Linked DNA regions of Homo sapiens. The protein of the gene in region 1 purifies or fractionates together with the protein of each later gene. This does not show direct contact. Each region holds a gene or a part of one and is shown on either strand. Other genes may lie near its edges.

The links. Proteins that work in one complex are often made in the same cells at the same time.
Region 2: the proteins of PHF13 (region 1) and TBX20 purify together in Homo sapiens (affinity purification with mass spectrometry; 3 studies listed by BioGRID and IntAct, with this or other methods). This does not show direct contact.

What each region holds. Positions count from the first base shown.
Region 1 is NC_000001.11:6,611,883-6,615,633, reverse strand, and holds the start of PHF13 (PHD finger protein 13), read right to left. Parts: upstream 1,904-3,751; 5' UTR 1,568-1,903; coding exon 1,529-1,567; intron 305-1,528; exon of another isoform or gene 1-304. UniProt on the Homo sapiens protein: Modulates chromatin structure and DNA damage response by regulating key determinants of chromatin compaction and DNA damage response.
Region 2 is NC_000007.14:35,205,435-35,209,185, forward strand, and holds part of TBX20 (T-box transcription factor TBX20), read right to left. Parts: intron 1-3,751. UniProt on the Homo sapiens protein: Acts as a transcriptional activator and repressor required for cardiac development and may have key roles in the maintenance of functional and structural phenotypes in adult heart.

The DNA of each region.
Region 1 (3,751 bases):
GCCTTGTCCGACCCACCCCCATCCTTCCCGAGGTGCTGTTACCCGGCCGCCACTCTGCTGGGGGAGAGCCGGTGGGGAAATGGGGGGCAGGGGTCTCGGGCCGCCCCTCCCGCCGCGAGGAGCAGGCGTGCGGCCCGCGGGTTTTCTTTCGAGAAAGTCGGTGCCCTTAGAAAATTATTTTCTCAACCTGGTTCAAGCAAACCTTCTCCTCTCCCACCCCCTTGGACCCCAGGGCCGCCCACGGAGCGGAGGCGAAGGCCCGCGTTGACCGCGCTCCCCGCACTGGCGAGCCTGCCCAGCCACGGGAACCGCGGGCCGCCACCCGGGCCTCCAACTCCCGCGAAGAACTTTTCTTTCGGCGGGGAACCAGCAGAAGTGGGTCAAAAACCCGAATGCCAAGTGGAGGGCGGCGACGGCCTCGGGCCGGGGGCGCGCGGGAGGCACCGGCGCGGGGACTGGGGGTTCCACGCCGCCCCCACACGGCCCACGCCGCCCGCCCCCCCGGCCGCCTCCTCGGAAAGCAGATGGCGGAGCGGCCCCCACCCGCCCTCCCGCGGCAGCCGCCCCCCGCGACACTCGGCCCCCGAAGGTGCGGGGCCCATCCCGCGAGTATGTGTGAGGGGGGTGCGCCAGGCAGGATTCCGGGGTCCCAGGCCTGGGGAGGCCCTGCGAACCCCCGGGGGCGGCAGCGAGACCGGCGGGCTCCGGCGCCGCCTCCCCTCCCCCACCCGCCCGCGGTCGCCGGACCCGCACCCCCGACCCCAACGAGCCTCGGCTGGGGGGAGGGGACCGCGCGGGGGGGAGGCCGGGAGCCCCGAGGGCCGATCCCCGGAAGGAGGGGGAGTGAGCCGGGGCGGAGCCAGCAAAGCCCGCGGGCGGGGGGCGGGGGCCCGAAGAGAGAGGCCAGCGCGCCGGGGGGCGGTGGGTGGGGGCAGGACTCGGGTCCCCAGAGCGGGTGGGGCCCCCGGAGGACGCGGCCCCCGAGAGCCGTAGGGGGCGGGGGCCGACTGGGCCCCGCGCGGAGTCAGGGGGCGGGGCGCGGGCCACCGGGCCCGGGGGATCGGGGGAGCAGCCGGGGGCCTCGGGAGCCGACCCCGGTCCGAGGGGGGCCTAAAACTCCTCGAGAGCAACCGGAGCCAGGGGCGGGCGGCGGCTCGGACCGCGTCCCCGGGGGCGGGGAAAGAGTAAGCAGGCCGGCGGGGAGGGGCTGGGGGCGCCGACAGGTCCCAGGTCGACGCGAGGCCGGAGAGGGGCGGCCCGGGGGAGAGAAATAGGCGCAACGGCCCTGGGGAAAGGGCGCGGGGAGGACGCGGAGGTCCGCGGAGGGGACGCGGAGGCGAGGCCCGGCGGAGAGGACCGAGCGCGGGCCCGAGCAGGGGGCGGGGGTTGGGCTCCCGGGGGGGCCGACGAGGGGAAAGCGGGGGAAGGGGAGGGCGGCGCTCCGGGCGACCGGGGGTCTGGCTGCCTGAGGACGGCAGGATCGCGGAGGGGGTGGTCGGGGGCGATTCGGACGCACAGCTTCACTCACCTCCGGGTGGAAGGCGGCGGCGCAAGAGTCAGAGTCCATGTTCCGGGCGGGGGGCGGCGGCGGCTGCGAGAGTGCAGGAGCTGGGATGCTGGAGCGGGGCCGCCCGGGGCTGGGGGCTCGGGCGGCTGCGCAGGGCGAGGGCGGACCCGGGAGGGGTCGCCCGGGCTGGAGGTGATGGGGGGCTCAGCGCGTCGCTTCTCAAGCTCTGTGACCCCGGACTGGCGGTTCCACCGCCGACCGGAGTGGACGATGCAGCTCCCGCGGCGGTAGAGGCGGGAGAGTGGCTGCAGGGGGCGGCGGCGGCGGCGGTGAGCGGGAACCCGACCGGCTCCCCGACCTGACGCCCAGTTCGGCTCGTGTCTCGGGAGGGAGGGCGGGAGAGCCGGGAGGCCTGTCGGGAAATGTAGTCTGGGTGGCGACTGGAAGCCAGCGGCGAGGGGGCGTGGCGCGGGAGGCGGGCGCGGTGCCTTGTGGGAGTGGTAGTCCAAGGCCCCGCCAATACTGCGCACAAAGGAAACCTTGGGGACTCCAACCCCCATGAGGCTCCGCGGCGGCGGCCCCGGTGTGTGGAGGCGGGTCTTCTGGACTCGAGGCCGCGCGAGCGGGGGAGGTGCGGGGGCCCGCGCCGGCTCGGCCGCGGGGGGAGGGGCAGTGTGAGCGGTAGCGCCTTGGTCTCGGCGGGCGCGGGGGCGGGAGTCGCTGCGGCGGTGGGGGCGGGGCTGACGGCCCGGGTTGCGAAGGGCGGCGGCGGCTGGCACCTACCCTTCCTCGTCTCCTACTTGGGGTTCGCGCCCCTTTGTGGGGCGGGGGTCCCCGAGGCCTGGCCGGGAGTAGGGGCGGCAGGGGCGGGGACGCTGACGTCGCGGCCGCCCCGGGCATCGCTCCCCGCTCCCCGCTCCCCGCTGAGGGCGGAGTCGCCGCCCGGCCCCCGCTCCAGGCCGGGCTCAGCGAAGTTGTTTTCGCGGCTGCGGGCTTCGTGCGGCTCCCTGCTCCGGGCCCGCGGGGCCGGGACTGGACCGGGCTCTTCTCTAGGCATCTGCGGGATTCACTCGAGGTGGCCGGGTTCGTGCATTAAAAACACCGGGCCAGCGTTGTCAGTGTTCTAAAGAGGTGTGCGTTCAGTTTGCTTTCTGTTGCCGCCTAAGCCTAACCTTGGGACCGGCCGTTTTCCCACTCTCCTGAATATCCTCCGGCCCGCAGGGCGAGGCGGAGACGCGGTGTTTGGCGCTGGCATCGACTGGTACTTGTTTAGTGGTGTTTAACTGGGATGGGCAGTGTGTAAACGCTGGACCGCAGAGTATCCGACAGCTGTACGTGTGGAAGGCTGGCCGGACACGGTGGGGACTGCCCCTATGCGGTGACCAAAAGGCGGTCTGACGGGAACATTTTTAATATTCGAAAGTGGGGGAAAAAGGTAAGTACAAAACGCAGATGATTCAGTAACCTGTTTGGTAGCTTCGAAGAAGTTAAAGGGGAGTGACACAAAATTGAAAATTCAAATTAGAAAACGAACTCTTGGAGATACTAGTAAGATATTTGACAGGCGCCGAATGCTCCATCAAGCTGGCTGTTGCTATTTCAAGGGTTATGATCATTCTGATGAAGATATTTAATAGTTAGGAGATGGTGTTAATCTTAGAAATACTTCTCTGAGCGGCCGGGCGCGGTGGCTCGCGCCTGTATTCCCAGCACTTTGGGAGGCCGAGGCGGGTGGATCACGAGGTCAGGAGTTCGAAACCAGCCTGACCAACATGGTGAAACCCCGTCTTTACTAAAAATACAAAAATTAGATGGGCGTGGTGGCGGACACCTGTAATCCCAGCTACTCGGGAGGCTGAGGCGGGAGAATTGCTTGAACCCGGGAGGCGGAGCTTGCAGTGAGCCGAGATCGTGCCACTGCACTCCAGCCTGGGCGACAGAGCGAGACTCTGTCTCAAAAAAAAAAAAAAAAATACTTCTCTGAGCCTCAGTTTCCTAAGCTGTTAAATTTTAGCGTAGTGCCTGGCTAAATAAATGGTAGCTTACTGTTGTTGTTGTTGTTGTTGTTTTATTATTTCTGCAATATTGTAGCCCATTGGAGGGCTTCCCAAAGGTGATAAATTGAGGTACTTTACAAGATAAAACATGAAATTACTGATTAAAACAGAGACATTGGACTTGGCCCATCGAGACTTGATTAACAACTTCTTATACAATTGCACAGATGATTTAGCCAGATTTGGA
Region 2 (3,751 bases), on another chromosome or scaffold:
CATTTCTGGAACAGCTGTGGCCCAAAGACCAATGCCAAATTGACCAGCAAAGGACAAAAGAAGACTTATAAAATATGTGTTAAATGAGGAAGGACAACCAAACACCACATTTCATATTGAGGGAATAAGCAAAGCAAATAAAATGTCATAATAACTTTTTAAAATGTTAACACTTGTCAACATTTCACATAAATATGCAAACTTTACCTGTGAAAAATTACTACCTAATTCATAGTAAATTTGGTGTTGTAGAAAGCTTATATACCCACATAGATGAAGGCATTTTATAATATATAGTATGACTATGACTATGAGGACTTAAGGATATGCCTAAAAGGAAAATTAACTCTGCAACTATTTAAGTTACATCTCTATTCTCAAATTATTTTAGAGTAAGAATAAAGTACCACCTCTTATAGTCAAAATAATTAGGATCCAGATCCACTGCATTAACACATAGGTGTCAAAAAGAATGAGGTCATTCCATATGTATAGATATGGAATAATTTTCAAGATATAGTAAGTGAAAAAAGTAAAATACAGAATGTTATGTAAAGTATGCTACCATTTGTGAAGTTAGAACACAGGATATGTATGTTCATATATGCCTGCATGTGCACAGGATTTCTAGAATGTTCCAGTTTCCAGAACAAGAAACTGCCTAGAAGAGGTTGCCTCTGCAGGGTGAAATCAGGGACTTGAAGGATTAGAGTAGTGATTCTCAAATTTGTGTGTATGTTTGAATCAACTAGGGATCTTGAAACAAACAAACTATATTGAGATATGATTAAAATACAAAAAGTGGCACACATTTAAAGTGTATGGGGCCGGAGCCGGGGCCGGTGGCTCACACCTGTAATCCCAGCACTTGGGGAGGCCCAGGCGGGTGGATCACCCAAGGTCAGGAGTTCAAGACAAGCCTGGCCAACATGGCAAAACCCTGTCTCTATTAAAAATACAAAAATCAGCCAGGCATGGTGGTGGGCACCTATAAACCCAGCTACTCAGGAAGCTAAGGCAGGAGAATTGCTTGAACCTGAAGGCAGAGGCTGCAGTGAGCCGAGATCGTGCCACTTCACTCCAGCCTAGACAAAAGAGTGAAACTCCATCTTAAAAAAATAAAAATAGAAATAAAGTGTATAGTTTGATCAGTTTGGGCATATGTACGCACCACTGACACCACTGCCACAAGCACAATAACAAAAATATCTAACACCTACAAAAGCTAGCTTCCTCAAGCTCCTATGCTCCATGGTCCCCATCGCAACAAACCTTTCCAAGGAAACCACTAATATAATTTCTGTTCTTGCAGATTAGTCTGCATTTTCTAAACTTTTACAAAGATGAAATCTTAGCTAATATATTCTTTTTTATCTGGCTTATTTCACTCAGCATATTTTAAGATTTATCATGTTGGGGCATACATTAATATTTCTTGTACTGAGTAGCATTATATTGCATGGATATATTATGGTTTATTCACTTATTGATGGATATTTGACTTGTTTCTAGTTTTTGAATGTTAAAATGAAGCTGCTACACATATTCATGCATACTTTTTAACAAATGGACATATACTTTTATTTATCTTGGAAAGACATCTAAGGATGAAATGACTAAATTGCATATATGTGCAATTTTTAAAGAAACTGCCAAACTATTTGTCAAAGTAGTCATACAATTTAGCATTCCCACCATCAGTGTATGAGAACTCCAGGTCCTCTATACTCTCACTGATGCCTGATATGGTCAATGTTTAATTTTAGCTATTGTAATATGCATGTGCTGGTATTCCATCATACTTTTAATTGTGTTCCCCTAATGACTACAATGTTGAACATCTTTTTCTGTGCTTATTTGCTTCCATATTTCTAGCTGTTAATAATCTGTTTAAAAAATTAGGTTATTTGTTTTCTGAGTTTTGAGATTTCTTTTTATATTCTGGGCACTGGTGTTTATAGAATATATGATTTGCAAATATTTTCTTCTAGGCTGTGGCTTGCGTTTTCTCTTTCCTAAACAGTTTCTTTTCAAAAGCAGAGTTTTTAATTTTGATGAAGTGCAATTTATCCATTTGTAATTCTATGGATCACGCTTTTGGTGCCATATTTTAAGATCTTTGCCTAGCCCAAGACCACAAAAGTTTTCTCCTAGTTTTTTTCTGTAAGTGTTATAGTGTGAGGTTTTATGTTTGTGTCTATGATTCATCTTGAGTTAATTTTATATATGAATGAGTTATGAATTGTTTATTTTTGTGCTTATGAATATCCCATTATTTCAACATTACTTGTTGAGAAGACTGTCCCTTCTCCATCACATACATGTGGGTCTACTCTTGGACTCTTTATTCTATTGATGTGTTCGTGGAACTTGACACCAAAACTATACTGTCTTGATTATTGTAGCTGAATAAAAGTGTTAGAACTTTTGACATTAGGTAGTATTAGTACTCTATCTTTTTTTTCAAAGTTGTTTTGGCTATTCTAGTTCTTTGCATTTCCATATGAAATTTAATATTACTTTGTCAATCTCTACAAAAAAGACTCCTGTGATTTTGGTCAGGATTATTTTAGATCTACATATCAATTTGTGCATAACTGATATCTTAATATTGCATCCTTCAAATCATGAACCAGTACATCCTTCTGTTTCATTAGGTCTTCTTTAATTTCTCTCAACAATGTTTTTGTAGTTTTAAGTATATATGTCTTGCATATCCTTTCCAGATTTTCCCTACTTCGTATTATAGTAAATATTGCTTTTTAACTTCAATTTCTGATATTCATTTATAATAGATAGAAATACAATTTATTTTGTATATTGATCTTGTATTCTGTGAACTTGCCAAACACTTATTTGTTCTAGTGGGTTTTGGAGATTTGGGTTTTCTGTATAGATATTCACGATGCCTGTACACAAAGATAGTTTTACTTCTGTCTTTTCAATCACAATGACTTTGATTTTTCCTGACTTATTGCAATGGCTAAAACTACCTGTACAATGTTGAATTAGCAGTGGTAAGAATGGGCCAGGCACAGTGGTTCACGCCTGTAATCCCAGCACTTTGAGAGGCTAAGGTGGGCGGATCACCTGAGGTCGGGAGTTCAAGACCAGCCTGACCAACATGGAGAAACCCCGTCTCTACTAAAAATACAAAATCAGCTGGGCATGATGGCCCATGCCTGTAATCCCCGCTACTCGGGATGCTGAGGCAGGAGAATCACTTGAACCCAGAAGCTGGAGGTTGCAGTGAGCCAAGATTGAGCCATTGCACTCCAGCCTGGGCAACAAGAGCGAAACTCCGTCTCAAAAAAAAAAAAAAAAAAAAAAAAAAAAAAAAAAAAAAAAGAACAGACATCAATAACTTGTTCTTTATCTTACAGAAAGCATTCAATTTTTCACCATTAGATATAATATTCATTCTAGGTTTTTTGTACATACAATTTACTAGACTAAAGGTTCTCTTCTATTCCTAGTTTGCTGAGAGTTTTCAAGAATAGAGGTTGAATTTTGCTAAATGCTTTTTCTGTGTCTGTTGAGACAATCATATAGTTTTGTTTTTAGTTTGTCAGCATGGTCATTACATCCATTGAATTTCAAATGTTAAATCGACCTTGCAGTCCTGAACTAGGCCCTAGTTATTTATGACATATTATCGTTTTTTTAATTCAATTTCCTAAAATTCTGTTTAGAATTTTTCCATGTATATTCATGAAGAATATTGGTCTTTCTCTAGTTTTAGTATCAAGAT